2 separate regions of the Homo sapiens genome follow, and region 2 is linked to region 1. Evidence: fine-mapped expression QTL. Tissue or cell type: breast. Region 1 holds a variant in brackets; the other region holds the start of a gene. All regions are shown on one strand. Distances are from middle to middle.

Region 1 (8,205 bases):
AAAAACGATTTTATTTATGTTTATTCTTTTTCTACTCATTTCTTATCAAAGGGACCAGTGAGAATATTAACAAGTAGACTGCAGGAGATAGGGAAAAAAATAAAGGCAATATCCCTGATTGATCGCCTCCTAAATAATTTAAAAATTTATGTTTAAGTAGCTACTTTACATTCAATTAAGAGCCAGGAGACCTAGAGTCTAATTGGACTCTTTTATTCAATAGCATGGTCAAAATAACAATAAATCATAACAAATGCTTGAGTTCTTGTTATATGTCAGGCTCTGTACTATGCACATTACATGAATTGGTCTTTCATTTCATGTACAACACAACACTCATATAAAGAAAATATATTTTCACACCCATTGAATAATGAGAAAGCGAGGCTTAAACTTGCTTAAAGTTGCACAGCAGAACCCTGGACCTCAGTTTTCTTCCTGAAAAGAGAGGGCATGCATATATATTTTTTTCTCATTCAAAAACATGCGTATTTAGCAACAGCTCATGCCAGGCGCCCTGCAGAGCTACGGAGCTATGATTGAAGACACGGTGGCCCTGTCTGCAGCACGCCCCCTAGTGGGTTGGAGTGTCTCCATGGCCCTTCCAGCCCTGTGATCTGCATTTCTGCCCCTGCTTTCTCAGTGGTTGAATGGAACATATGCGTAAGTTGGCGATCTTCTCTCACATATCCATGTTTGCCTGCAGGTGGTGGGCAGGGGAGTGGGAAGCATGCTCGGCGACATGCGGGCCCCACGGGGAGAAGAAGCGAACCGTGCTGTGCATCCAGACCATGGTCTCTGACGAGCAGGCTCTCCCGCCCACAGACTGCCAGCACCTGCTGAAGCCCAAGACCCTCCTTTCCTGCAACAGAGACATCCTGTGCCCCTCGGACTGGACAGTGGGCAACTGGAGTGAGGTGAGCTCAGGGCTCGGCGGGGAAACTGGCATTATTCAAGCTTCATCAGCCCCTGCCTTCCTTCTCATTATCCAATCCAAAGTGACCCTAGGTAAAATTGCAAAATAGCCAGTGTTCATCACCCCTGGCCTGTCTCCTGCCTTTCCTGTGTCCACTACTTATTTTCCATTCATAGGGGATCTTGCTCCCACTTGCTCAATGGTCAGCTTACTATCTGACAGGGGTGAGGTAGACCCCCCACTCCCAGTACAGGATCACAAAGACTAGTTAATAAATCATCAGAAGCTTGGCCAGGCCCATTGTTAAACCACTGGTAGCAGATAAGGGACCTCCCACACACCCCAAAAGTGGTTTATAAAACATTGACTGCACATCACTGTAGTTAACCCAAACCAAAAGAGTGTCGCTTGACACTGAGAAAAATCCCCTCAAATTATCCATCTATTCACCATGTGTCAAGTCCAAACCAGACCAAGGTTTCTAACATCTATTATCAGACACACAAGTTCAGATAAATGTTGCATTTTCCCAAAATTAATTTGATCTAATTATCTGACTATAATTGGAAATCAGTAAGCTGGAAGGTTATGAAAAGCTCTCTCAGGCTTTAATTTTCTTTGGGTCACTTTGGAATCTGGTTTCATCAGGCATTGTCATGTTCCCAGTTATTAGTGGAAGGCCCCAAAGTCTCCAAGGGCCTCAGCTCTGCTTCTCTATGTGCAGTTCAGTGAACAACCTAAGAATAACTAGAAAATACATGTTTTTTAAAAATTAACAGGCCAGAGTTTAGAGATGGATGCTGACTTTATCTTACGAGCTTCCTTGAGAAGCCGTATGCTTCCATGATAATGCTACCACTGGACAGGCACCTGTAATCCCAGCACTTTAGGAGGCCGAGGAAGGAGGATCACTTGAGCTTAGGAGTTTGAGACCAGCCCAAGCAACATGATGAAACACCATCTCTATGAAAAATACAATTAGCCAGTCATGGTGGCACATGCCTGTAGTCCCAGCTACTTGGGTGGCTGAGGCAGGAGGATCGCTTGAGACTGGGAGATCGAGGCTGTAGTGAGCTGATATCATGCCACTGTACTCCAGCCTAGGTGAGAAAGTGAGACCCTGTCTCAAAATAATAATAATAACAATAATGCCACCATTGCTCAGGATATTTTAGGAACTCCTGTGAGGACTCAGGAGAAAATGGAGAATATCTGATTCAGGAGAATGCCACAGAAAGTCAATTAGAATGGGGCCTGATGGATAAATGAATAATGTGATCAAAATCTTTGTGTTTAAAAAATATTTGATGATAAATATGTGACAGATTGCTTTTCACCTGCTCTGAAAGAAAAATTCTAAAATTTGTGTAAGCAAAGATACCATCTCTGAAGATACCTATTTGAAAGCAAAACACTCATTTAAATACAGCAGCTTTGATGAAACCTTATTTCCAAGACTCCCTTTTATTAGCTTATGTCACAGTTTAGGTTTATTTACCTTCTGAATCTGTACAGGATGTTCTCTTGGGCATCTAGGTGAAATTAAAAAAAAAAAAAGAAACAGAAAATATGGTCCCTAGATGGTAAGAACTTCCATCCAGTGGGAGAGATGGGATCCAGAAAAGAAAAAGAAAAAAGGAAAGGAAGGATAAAGATATGCATGCAAAGAAATATACCTACATACAAATATGGGTGTATTACTGATTCATGCACAGATGTATGTACACACATCAGTGATAAGCCATACATTCTTTTTGCTATTCCTGGGAGAGTATAATCACGGCATTTGGTTGGCCTGCCTTATTAGTCCACTGCAACCTAGGTTTCTGTGAATTACAGTGTTGTCAAAATAAGGCTGAATGGAGTATTGTGACTGGCCTATTAAATCTGTTTACCAAAAATGTGTTGGCCGCATCCAAAACTGTTAATAATTCTTGTCATGTAGAATTTACTAATTGCCAACATCTTAATGCTTTTTCAGAGGACTGCAATTACAGATTTGGCTGAGGAGTTCTTCTTAATGTGTTCACGTTTATGGGAAGCGTAGTAACCTGTCTTAACTGGAGAACAAGAGACCAAAAAGTTGGCATGATGTAAGAAGCACTTGGGTCTGTGATTCCATATGTAGGCCATTGCATAGTCAATGGACCACACATGGACAGTTTCTAGCTTCCACTTGACAGAGCTGAGCAGAAAGGCTGGGCCAATGCCCTCATTCAGAAGATGTCATTGGAAGTGCTTTTAGTTAAATCAGTATCAAAATATTCATCAAATGGGTCTTCCTTTCTTCTATCTGCTCTCTTACTAATAACCTCCTAATGAACTTTGCTGGAGTATGATGAAATGTCTTTGACATTCTAACTATGCCCAGATACTTTTTTTAAAGAGAGGTGACATAGTGATTCTTGGCAGGCAGTATTTATTATCTAGATTTTGTCTGGAGACCAACATCATTTGAAGCAGGATAGTGCTCCAGCCATCATTTGGTCTGCACTGTGTCATTTTCATCTGCATTTGTCATTTTCATCACCCTGGATGGTCTAAAACTGTAAAGTTACTTATCCAAAAGGCCCAAGAACTGACAGCCTTCTAGACTCCTGTAAAATGGCCTTCTCTGGGCTGAACTAAGTGAGAAGAAAGAGGAAGTACATTCATGAGCTCCTTTCCTTATCAAAGCACTCCACCAACTCAAGCAGTGAGGAGAGAGTGGGCTCAGCCGTGCCAGGTTGGTACACTCATCCCTGTCCCAGCAGGGATCAGAAAGGGGAGCTCTCTCCCCTGCTGCCCCAGACAGGCTTTCCTGCCCCCTGTGACCAGCCCCTTTTCTCTAAGCTTATGTTCTAGATACCTGACTCTCACCTCCAATCTCAGGTTTTACCAAGAATCTTATCCTGGTTTTGCCCATCCTACTTTGTGGACTTAAAGGGTAAAGAAGG[G/A]AACTCTATTGTAAACAGAGACCAGGTATCAAAGTTACTGTGACTCCCTTACTTCCCAGATACACCATTTCAGGGACATGCCTTGTGAGAGGCAGCCAGTCTAGTAGTGAAGGGCACAGCCCCTAGAGCATGGCTTCCTGGGTTCAAATGTGTATGTGTGGCAAACAGGACACTCCAGAAGCCAGGATGTGTGTGTTTGTTTATACAGTTTTCCTTTCCAAAGGCATTTCAGGCAGTTTACAATAAAAGGGCTCTAGACATTGAAGTGGTGAACTAGAAGTTGTAGCCACACGTGGGAGCAGAGAGCAACATGATAAACATGAGAATAATAGGGTTATTTTGATGAAGCTTTCAGTTTAACCCAGTGCATCCAGACAACCAGGGCAATAAGGGCAGCCCAGTGGGTTCCATAATTCTTTCTTTTTGATAGATGGAAGGGTACCTCTTCTTCAAGAGACACCCCTGGTACCCCCAATGAGAGCTTTAAAATAAATTGCCAAAATTATATGAGATTTTTAATCATGGCTCCAATGGTTTAGTCAGATACTTTGTAAAAACCTATGCCATCTTTTTCCTTGGAGGGATGGATGGATGGATGGATGGATGGATGGATGGATGGATGGATACATGGATAACCACCATGTACTTAATAAATGTTTGACTAGTGCATCCTTGGCAGAAAGGGAAGTGGGAAGAGTCCTGGCTGAGATCATGGAGAAACCATCTTAGTTCTGGCCTTGTATTGCATAAACTTGTATTGCATAAACTTGTATTGCATATTGAACAGTCTTAGGAAAATGATTTTTCCTTATAGGACCTCAGTTTGCTCAATTATGAACCAACATGTTATTTCTCCTAGTAATTAGACTAATAGTAATGATAGGTGGTAATTTTTCTAGGTTTTCCAGCCCTGGCAATCTAATTGTGTGGCCTTGAGCCAGTGCTAATTCTCTCTTAGCCTGTTGTCACTGAGAAAGATAGGATTATTGTAAGAATTGAATAAGATAATTCATGCAAACACTTAGCGTAGTGCCTGGTAAAAAGTAAGTGTTCACTAAATTATTATCAGACAAGAAGACAAAAGTCTGTTTTCCATGCTACTCTGATTTTGCAAACCTTGTTCAATCAGTCGTACCCAAATGTGCTGAAGGAACTGATTTGTGGCCCCTTAAGTTTTCACCTATCCTCTCCTTGAGCTCAGGGAGCTCATTCATTTTATGCATGAAACACTATAAGCGCAGTGCTTGGGGCCTACAGATTTTTCAAGGGCCTGCACAACATTTGAGACCTGAAAAAAAAAACCTCATGCATTGCATCTATAAAAACAAAAGGACCCTGCAAAATCAGAAATCAATATTTAATTACATATTAATAGGAAATACATACCAAGCATTTTGTATGTATTATTACTATGTATTATGTATGTATCTATTAAGTACTTTTATGGGTATTAGCACATTTAATCTTCACCATGACTTATTTAGCCCCATTTTATTAATACAAGTGAAGAAACTGAGGCATAGAAACATTTAGAAATTTGTCCAAGGTCACATAACCACTAAACCACGGAGCCAGGATTTGAACGCAGGCAGCACAGCGTCTACTCTGAATGTACACTTTGCCATACTGCATCTCAAATATCTGCAAAGTGTAGCAATATGACAGCTCTTAGTATTCATAAGAAATGTTTTGTGTTTGGAAATTATTTGTAGACTGGCTTTTCTCATTCTGTTGGAATTTCAGACTATGCATGACAATTGCTGAGAAATCAGAGCCTCCCCAAAATTAAATGTTACCCTCAGTGAATAACTTCAAAAGCGCAGGAAAAAAATAAAGCCTTTCACAAAAGATTTCAATAGACATTTCTCAAAAGAAGGCATACTAATGGCAAGCAGGCATATGAAAAGGTGCTCAATATCGTTGATCATCAGAGAAATGCAAATCAAAACTATAATGAGATACAACTTTTATTCCAGTTAAAATGGCTTACATCCAAAAGACGGCAAAAGCAAATGCTGGTGAGGATGTGGAGAAAAGGGAACCCTCGTACACTGTTGGTAGGAATGTAAATAGTTTAACCACTGTGGAGAGCAGTTTGGAGGTTCCTCAAAAACGTAAAAGTTAAGCTATCACGTGATCCAGCAATCCCACTGCTGGGTATATACCAAAAAGAAAGGAAACCAGTCTATCAAAGGGATATCTGCACTCCTATGTTTGTTGCAGCGCTGTTTGCAATAGCTAAGATTTGGAAGCAACCCAAGTGTCCCTCAACAGACGACTAGATAAAGAAAATGTGGTGCATATGCATGGTGGAGTACTATTCAGCCATAGGAATGAATGAGATTCAGTCATTTGCAACAACGTGGATAAACTGGAGATCATTATGTGAAGTGAAATAAGCCAGGCACAGAAAGGGAAACATTGCATGTTCTAACTTATTTTAGGGCTCTAAAAATCAAAACAATTGAACTTATGGACATAGAGAGTAGAAGGATAGTTACTAGAGGCTAGAAACAGTAGCGAGAGTTTGCAGGGAAGGTGGGGATGATTAATGGGTACAAAAAAAAAATAGAAAGAATGAATAAGACCTACTATTTGATAGTACAATGAGGTGACTATAGTCAATAATAACTTAATTACACATTTTAAAATAACTTAAAGAGTATAATTAGATTGTTTGTAACTCGAAGGATAAAAGCTTGAGAGGGTGGATACCCCATTCTCTATGACGTGCTTATTTCACATTGCATGCCTGTTTCAAAACATCTCATGTACCCCATAAATATATACACCTACTATGTACCCATAAACATTTTTTAAAACTGGAATGGAAAAAAATAATTTCAAATGTTTTTTATAGCAAAAGTTACGTTTCACTTGAGACAAGAAATGCATTTGAATATATTTGATGGGACATGAGGTGGAGGCTCTAAAAGCAGACACACACAGAGTCTAGGAAGATCTTTAACTGGCCCTTCCTGCGCCTGACAAAAACACACAAACAAAACATTCACTTAACCAAGGTACTGAGAATCGATAAAGTACAAAGCTCATCACAGGGGTGTTGGAATGCAGAGTGACCAAATAGACCGAATGCCGATGTTCACAAATGAGCTCTCTGGCTCTTGGGATAGAAGACGTGGCAGCAAATGGCAATGCTATGTCTATTGCTAAGTGGGAAGCAAAGCTAGACTCATGTGAAGTCCCTGCCACCCGAGGGAAGAGAGCATGGAGGGATAGGGGCATTTTTGAGAGTCGCTGACCCTCTGGATTCCCCAGTCCCAGGCACTCCTGTGGGGCTGGCCACCTGATGTTCTGACCTTGTCACTCCCTCTTTTGGTGTGGAGTGTCATTCATCAACATCTCAGTTCTTCCCAGGCATCAGTAGCCTGTGCTCTGCCAGGGTTCCTGGGGAACAGATATGGGCACCTCTGTTTGCAACAACTACTCACAGAAAACCAGCTGAGAGCTATGTTGATTGTCCTCCTCAGGTCTGATTTGTTTTAATTATCTAGGTCTGATTTTTTTTTATTATCTTAGCTCCCGAGGGCTGCCCTAATGAAGTACCACAAACTGGGCAGATTAAACAACAGGAATTTGTTGTCTCACATGTGCAGAAGCTACAAATCCAAGGTCAAGGTGTTGGCAAAGTGAATTCCTTCTGAAAGCTGGGAGGATGAATTGTTCCACGCCTTTCCCCCAGCTTCTGGTGGTTTGACGTCAATCTTTGGTGCTCATTGGCTTGTAAATGCATCACTCCAATCTCTGCCTTCATCTTCACATGACATTCTACCTGCCTGTGATCTCTGTGTTCAGATTCCCCTTTTGATGTGGATACCATTAGGGCCCACCCTAATGACCTTATTGTAACTTGATTACCTTTTTAAAGATCCTTTCTCCAAATAAGGTCAAATTCTGAGATTGGGGGCATTGGGATTTTGACATATCTTTTTTGAGAGGGACACAATTCAACCCAAAACAGATACCTATGTGTTTTAGCTTGCTTTCAAAGCTGGTGTTTGTATGAGATCTAATTATTCATTTATAAATTTCTGAGATTGTGCATTAAATGTTTTAATGCCCAAAGTATTCACTGTTTCTCTACTCAGCCCTTTAGCCCAAACCCTCTGATAAACTCCGACTGTGTTTTCGAATAAACCCTTTCTCAGCACTACAGCTCAGTGCCAATTGTGAGCCTTTTCACCCACCACAGTGGACCACAGGTGGGTGGAGTTGATAAATTGGGCAGCAAACCTCTTTCTCAGTGGGTTCCCCGACAAGAGGCCTGTATCCAGGATGGTGATAAGTGAGGGCAAAATGACTCCCAAAGAGCAGGTTAACAGGTTGACATGC
Region 2 (8,146 bases), 140 kb after region 1:
AAAGACAGGTTAACAACTTACAATAAAGGCAAGTCTTTAAAAAGTAGGAAGGAGTTACTAACGATGTTTAACTCCTCAAATTTCATTTATTTTATTTTAACTATTCTTGTGACTCTCGCTTCAGGTTTACTTGGACCACATACCAAACATATGGCCACAAGGAAGCACGCAGTTGATTCAGTAAGCATATTTCCAGGGGAAAAAAAAAAAAACTGAATGCAAAGTGTGCCCATGAATTCCACCAGTGCTAACAAAAGCCATGGAAGAAGCAAACATAAGGCCCAATCCCTACCATGTGTAAACCTAGTCTCTCCAGGGAAAGTAAGGCATACATGTGTGAGAAACTCCCGGAGGAGAAAACACAGTAGTAACGCTACGATTAGATGTCAAATAAGCTAGGACTAGCGTTTTAAAGGATGGAATGCATTTCAACAGGTGGATTCTGAGAATACAGGAAATGTGTCCTATGTGTACACATAAGCTTGTTGTCAGAAATGTTAAAATTTAAAGAGAGAAAAAATGACTAAACCAGGCTGATTAATGAAGGATTGTTTTAGAAAGTAATACAAGGTAAGACAGACTAAGGCTCACAGAAGCAAGAACTAAAAGTTACCATAAGGAATACAGACTTCAATTAGAAGCAAGTGAAGTCATAGAAAGTTTTAAAGTAATAAATCCTGTGCCAGGAATGTAAACAGGGATTTTAATTAGTTTGCATGTTTGTGACCTTTAGTTTTCTTAAGTTTTAAGATACAATTCATATACCATACAAGTTACCCATGTAAAGTACACAATTCAATGGTTTTTAGGTATTCACTGTTTTGCAACTATCACTACCATCAATTTTAGAGTATTTTCATCACCCTCAAAAAGAAACCTTGTACCCATTAGCAGTTTACTCCCTGTTGCCTTCATCTCCAGACCCTGGCAACCATTAACCTAGTTTCTGTTTCTATAGATTTGCCTATTCTGGGAATTTCATATAAATAGAATCACACATTATGTGGTCTTTTGTGACAGGCTTCTTTTAGTTAGCATAATAATTTCAAGATCATCAGGTTGTAACATGCATCAATACTTGTCATTGTACCTTTTTATTATCAAATAATATTCCATTGCTTACTTATCCATTTATCAGTTGATGGACATTTTGGCCATTGTCTTTTAAATCCTATAAAATGCGTTACTTGTATAATTAAAAAAAAAACTAATTTTAAAATATGACTCCTAATTTCATGCTGAGCTAAAATCCCCCCTACTCCAGAAGTCTGGATTTAATAAACTTTAAAGGTTCATTTAGATTCAATAGAGCCTTTGTTATACTGCAGAAGTGATGTAACTGATCAAGTATACTGGGTAAAAAGAAAAATTGCGGCTGGGCGCGGTGGCTCATGCCTGTAATCCCAGCACTTTGGGAGGCCGAGGCGGGCAGATCACGAGGTCAGGAGATCGAGACCATCCTGGCTAACACGGTGAAACCCCGTCTCTACTAAAAAATACAAAAAAAATTAGCCGGGCGTGGTGGCGGGTGCCTGTAGTCCCAGCTACTCGGGAGGCTGAGGCAGGAGAATGGCTGGAACCCGGGAGGCGGAGCTTGCAGTGAGCAGAGATCGCGCCACTGCACTCCAGCCTGGGAGACAGAGCAAGACTCCATTTCAACAACAACAACGACAACAAAAAAAAAAAAAAAAAGAAAGAAAAATTGCAGGTCTGTGCAGGTTTAAAATGGAAAGATGATAAAATAAGTTTTATATTTCTGATAAGATTATTTTGGTTTTGACCATTTGCCAAATGAACAGGGGTAGTGAGAGAGAGAGAGAGAGAGAGAGAGAGAGAGAGAGAGAGAGGGAGAGAGAGAGAGGGAATCACCACAAAGGTTTTCTGGTTCTAAATACGGCTCCATTTTACAAACAAGAACACTGGCTCAAAGAAGTAACTTGCCCATTTGTATCATTAAGTAATAGAGCTGGGAAATTACAACAGGTCTCTCTGGAACCCTGAGGCCTATGACCCCTTTTCTACAACACTGGGAAGAGAGTAGGCAACTGTTCTCTATTTCCCTGAGTATATATGGTATGTACATCTACATACAAGTAATCTAAAATCTCAACCCAAAAGTTGGGAAACAGAACCGGATTGTGAAGAGAAGCTACAGAATTACCTTTCTCAGGAATGATCTGTCCCTGACTCACTCAGAACAGCACAGGGGTTATTAGTATTGGCTATAGGATACTGGGTTTGAGGAAGGAAAAAAACGGGGATACTGGGTTTGAGCAAGTTACTGTTCCTACGCCTGCTTTCTCATCTGTATAATGGAGATAATAACAGAACCCACTTCACAGCGTTATTAAGAAGACTGAATGAGGCCGGGCGCGGTGGATCACGCCTGTAATCCAAGAACTTTGGGAGGCCGAGACGGGCGGATCACGAGGTCAGGAGATCGAGACCATCCTGGCTAACACGGTGAAACCCCGTCTCTACTAAAAATACAAAAAATTAGCCAGGCCTGGTGGCTGAGGCAGGAGAATGGCATGAACCCGGGAGGTGGAGCTTGCAGTGAGCCGAGATCGCACCACGGCACTCCAGCCTGAGTGACAGAGCGAGACTCCGTCTCAAAAAAAAGAAGACTGAATGAGTTAATTCATGGAATGCATTAATACAGTGCCAAACTCGTATTTAGTACTCAAAATAAATATTAACTATTGTATAATTATTACAGGAAGGAAAAATTACATATGTGTTAACCATACATATCACGTCCAATTAAGAATAGCACAGGAGAATATTTATGGACATGGAAAGTTGTTGACCACATTCTATTAAGCAAAAAAAAAAAAAAAAAAAAAAGTTACAAAACAGTAAAAATATCATTTTATGTGAAAAAAATCTACGTATAGTCACCATTTATCATCTAGAATTAAATTTACATAGTTAGAATGTGCCCGTATGCAGTTTCTCCATTCAATCTCGAGTGGACAATCAAGAAAAAAATTTGGCTTTTAAGTGAACTGTCCTGTCACAGACTTGGGATAGAGGATCCCTTAGCTGAAGACGTCACCACTTCTCACTTGGACTATTACAACAGCCTTCTGCATGTGGCCTAACCTTCTATCCCAATGCCAGCGTGACTTTTACAAATACAATCTTCCTGCTTAAGATCCTTCATGTATAGAATACAAGTTTCAAACATCCTTGTTGCCTAAGATCCTTCTGATTACTGTTCCTTTAACCCTTCTGGCATATCTCTTGCAAACAACCCGAAAGACAATTCACCTGCGTGCCCCTTTTCACTGCCTTCCCTACCTTTACGTGGGAAGCCCCGTCCTGCCTGTTTACCTGGTGAAATCATTCTTCCAAACTAAATTCTAAAGTGCCTTCCTAAACTTCCTCTTCTGTAATACCACAAGGTTGATCACAAAGCACTAGGGCTGTTTTCCTGTCTCTTACACATCAGCCTGTGAGGCCCTCAAAGTCGGGGAACTGGGCCCTATTCATCTTCCCACATGCACCGCCCAGATCAGTGCCGGGCAAAATGTATACTTAACCACCCAAACTTGGACAAGCTGGGTCAGATCTCGGGCACTCGGTTTTCCTTTCCTTAAAATGGAGCTCTTTACCCCCGCAGGATCTTAGGAGATTGATTAAATAAGGCTCTGCAATGTGTTTCCCGCTTACAGTAAGCCATAAACGCAAGTTTGGAAGCCTCAAGCCTAAGATTCTGATTCTGTCTCCGCGTCTAACTACTGTAGATGTGAGGCTCTGAACAAGTCGCTCACTCAAGGTCTGTTTCCTCATCTGTAAAGAGAATGGACCCACAGATGAACTGCAAGGCCCCACCCTAATTTATGAATGGATGGTTCCCAAAGGGGGTTCCGACTTTCCAGGAGTCCCACCATCCCCCACTTCTCCGACCCACGCGGTCCCGGCCGCTTCCTGCTTCCTGCCCCCCGCTCCCGCCGCGAGCGTAGCGTCTGCACCCACTAGAGTCCCAGGCTGGTCTCTGGGTCCCACCAAGTTTGCTCACCGGCTTCTCCTCGCCTCCCATCTTCCCTGAAGGACTGCTGGCCTTCTCCTCAAACATTGGCGAACGACGAAGCGATGAGAGAACCCGAAAGCGACGGCCTAGAGGAGAGGAGCCAAGAGGCGGGTGGGAGGTGGGCTAGCGCCCGGGACTTGGCCTCGGCTGGACCAGCTGATGCAATCGAAAGGCGCCCTAACCCCGCCCCCAACTTGCGGCGGAACGAGCAGCCAATGGATAACGGGGGAAGGCGGGCCCTCCCTCCTCTAAGCCAGTGGAAAATCTTTTCGGGTGACAGAGCCCTTCTAGGAAATCAGGTCGCGGAGGGTGAGGAGGAGCAACTGCAGAAGCTACATGCCTACTCTCCGCTGACCTTGGTCTGGACGCTTTCCAGAGTCAAGTCCCCAATGCGCGTGCGCCTTTCCTCCCTTCTGACTTTATGTGGAACAATCATGGACCTTCCCGGACACCGTAGATAATAAGTAGGTCTTGGTCTAAACTTCCGGGAAGTTTTCGGCGACCTGGATACCATCTTCGACACGGGGACAAATCCCGGGATGGAGTCCAGGGTTTCCCGCGGCTTCGGCGCTTCCTGACCTGGCGTGACTGCCGACTTGTCGGCACCACCCAGGCCTCAGGCTCCCTGTCTGTAGTGGTGAATCGACCTTCCTCATGGCAGTCCAGGCTTCCCAAGCCCCATGTCCTGTTGATCCGGGACAAACTCTTCCTTGAACGTTCTTCACTACGAGCCGCTGCTGATCTGTACTGCCTGGAGGAGCATTTCCATAGCGCCCGCAAAAATACAATAAAGCTCACCCAAGGAAATAACCATGGATTCTCACGCCTGGGTGCCAGTGTTTGGAATCGACTGGGCTTTTTTATGTTAGTAGGCAATTTAAAACAATTACTTATTTGAAATCAGAAGCGCAATAGGCATAACTTCAGGTACGTGCTCCACCACCACGTTTTGTGGATTTTTCTTTTTAAACATCAGTTCTGTTCTCTACAACTCTCCGCCTTCAGGGTTATACTTTCCAGGAACAATAGCTTCCCAATTCGGCTTTGTGCATCCATTTTTCATACAGCATCGTTGTAGTCTTCAAATACAAATATGATCACGGCAATCTGCTGAAAAATCTTTGGTGGCTTTCCCTTGCTCTTGGACAATCCCTGATTGTCCAAGTTTTCGGCTTCATCTCGTTCGCCCACCATACACTGAACTATAAACTGTAGTGGCTTTTTTTCCTCAGGTCTTCCCACAGACTAAGTACCAAGATTTTTCCACCCTACCCTCATCCGTGCTCATTCCGACACACTTTTTGCCTGTTTGACACCTCATTTATTGTCAGATTTCAAGAATCGTTTTCTTCGGGGAACCATTTCTTGACTCCCTTACTGGATGAAACAAGCCTCCCTGTTAAACAGTGTTGGAGGCGCAGAAACATACCCCCAAATAATGGCGTTTTGACATCTGAACTGAAGAAGCCTCAAGGTCCCACTCCCCTAAATCCCCACGCCATCTCTGCCAAAGCAAAGGATAAAGTTTAGACACATCACAAGGAACATAATTGTTTTTGTTGCCTCCCTGTAAGACCAAGAATGTAGTAATCACACCTGAGCAGACCCTTTCACAAGATGTTGTACAAATTAATGTGTTCCTGATACATTCATTCTCCTTTGTAATCCCTCAACAGAATTCCTCTTCTCCCTATCATAACCTGTGTCGCTGGGATTGTATCCACAAGCTTCTGAAGCCCTCTGAGGGGTGGGTAATCACGCTGTGATTCTTCCTGTGTATACACGTTAAGTAAATTTGTATGTTTTTTCTATTAATGTTCCTCATGTTAGTGATTTTCAGCCAAACCTCAGAGGGCCAAGGAGAAAGGTCCCCTTGGCGCTTACAATAGTGTCTGCTGGTAGTTTCATGTGGTTCTTGGTAGAACTTACCGGTTCAACTTGTTCTTTCACTATGTGTGTATTTAGAGCTAAGCAAGTTTACTATATATGTGTATATATATATATATATACACACACACACACATATACACATACGTATATGTATATACATATATTATATATATATATATGCACAGTAATGGTTCTGATCAGTTGGCCTAAGAGTACACCCTATGTGGGGCTTCACGTACTGCTACACTCACAGGCAGAATTGGGGGTTGTTTTTCTGTCCAGAGTGATTGATCCTGATTACAAGGGGACAAGCGGGTTTCTTCTACATAAAGGAGAATTTTGTCAAGAACCCAGGAGATTCACTGAGACCTTTTTTAGTACTTCCTTGTCTAATGTTTCGCTGTTGGAAAACTCTGGGAACCCAACAAAGACAAGGAAGGAAGGAAGGTTTGGGCTATCCTTCTAGGTAAAGAATCTAGTCTAGCGAGGTCCTGACAAAGGCTAAGGGTAACTTGAAAAGGTGCTAGGAGAACAGAGTTATGCAATATTAGCTACCTAATTTGCAGATTACATATATATGTATACACATATACATATGTGTGTGTGTGTGTGTGTGTGTGTATATATATATAACTGCTCTTTAGCTGACACCTTGATTTTAATAATAGTCCTTTTCTTTTCTTTTTTCTTTGAGATGAGGTCTTGCTCCATTACCCAGGCTGGAGTGCAGTGGCACAATCATAGCTCACTACAGACTCAAACTGCTGTACTCAAGCAGTCCTTCTGCCTCAGCTTCCCAAGTAGGTAGGACTGCAGGCACACACCACCACACCCAGTTAATTTTTTCTTATTTTTTATTCTATCTATCTATCCATTTATTTATTTTTGAGACAGAGTCTTGCTCTGTTGCCCAGGCTGGAGTGCAGTGGTGTGATCACAGCTCACTGCAGCCTTGATCTCCCAGGCTCAATTGATCCCCTCGCCACAGTCTCCTGAACAGCTGGGACTACAGGTGCACACCACCACGCTCGGCTAATATATATATTTTTTAATTTTTAGTAGACATGAGGTCTCACTATGTTACCCAGACTTGTCTCAAACTCCTGAGCTTAAGCTCTTCTCCTACCTTGCAAGTTTATAGTTTTTTTAAAATATATTTTATCTCCTTGATTGAAAACTTCACGAAAGCACACTTTGTGTATTTTTGCCAGCATCTGGAAGATGTAAACCTATCGCACAGCAGATGTTCAATAAATGTTGAGTGTTGAGACAAAACTTGCTTAATTTTTCAAGCAAGGTTTGGAAAATTACCTCTTTATTTGTATTATAAAAGAAGTCAAAACCCCTTTACTAACTAGATCTAGAAGAAAGTTTATGATGAGAGTAGATTATTAGTAGTGCTTGATATTCCAGGAGTTATGTACAATTTTAATAGGCTTAAATAGACCAAACTAACTCCCCACATTTAAATTAGAATGAGAATCAATAGGATCTAATCTTACCTTTTAATGTAAAACAATTTAATTATGCTCATTAGACACATTTGCCTGAATTGTATCTTAATTTTAACTAAGTATAATGAAAACCAGAGAGATCAAGATTCCTGAATTTGCTGGATGCAGAAAATGATAGGCTAACAATTATATTTAACTGCTATATAACATTGTTTCTAGCAGCTTCTCTTAACTCTTTGTTCTCTTTCAACTTTAAAAACAGTCCTCATTTAAGTATGGCAAAAAGAAAAAGCAGAAGGCGTTTCTTTTTTTAAATATATTTTTATTATACTTTAAGTTCTAGGGTACATGTGCACAACGTGCAGGTTTGTTACATATGTATACATGTGCCATGTTGGTGTGCTGCACCCATTAACTCGTCATTTACATTAGTTATATCTCCTAATGCTATCCCTCCCCCGTCCCCCAACCCCACAACAGGCCCCGGTGTGTGATGTTCCCCTTCCAGTGTCCAGGTGTTCCCATTGTTCAATTCCCACCTATGAGTGAGGACATGCGGTGTTTGGTTTTTTGTCCTTATGATAGTTTGCTGAGAATGATGGTTTCCAGCTTCATCCATGTCCCTACAAAGGACATGAACTCATCATTTTTTATGGCTGCATAGTATTCCATGGTGTATATGTGCCATATTTTCTTAATCCAGTCTATCATTGTTGGACATTTGGGTTGGTTCCAAGTCTTTGCTATTGTGAATAGTGCTGCAATA

What was found. PIP is the estimated chance that this variant, and not a neighbour inherited with it, causes the effect.
Region 2: TARS1-DT starts here. The variant in region 1 is fine-mapped to the expression of TARS1-DT in breast (GTEx, PIP 0.97).

Annotation. Positions count from the first base shown.
Region 1 is chr5:33,581,311-33,589,515 of GRCh38, reverse strand. It overlaps ADAMTS12 (ADAM metallopeptidase with thrombospondin type 1 motif 12), which reads left to right. Exons shown (of 24, transcript NM_030955.4): 18 at 707-917. Among named protein-coding and RNA genes, the nearest start is that of TARS1, 140 kb to the right of the region's middle. RefSeq lists a silencer at 611-660. The variant G/A (reference allele first, on the strand shown) is at 3,853.
Region 2 is chr5:33,437,022-33,445,167 of GRCh38, reverse strand. TARS1-DT (TARS1 divergent transcript) reads left to right here and starts at 4,534. Exons shown (of 3, transcript XR_001742630.2): 1 at 4,534-4,963. TARS1 (threonyl-tRNA synthetase 1) reads right to left here and starts at 4,203. Exons shown (of 19, transcript NM_152295.5): 1 at 4,025-4,203. The coding sequence starts at 4,081. RefSeq lists enhancers at 3,095-3,681, 3,696-3,755, 4,016-4,205, 4,306-4,615, 4,270-4,857.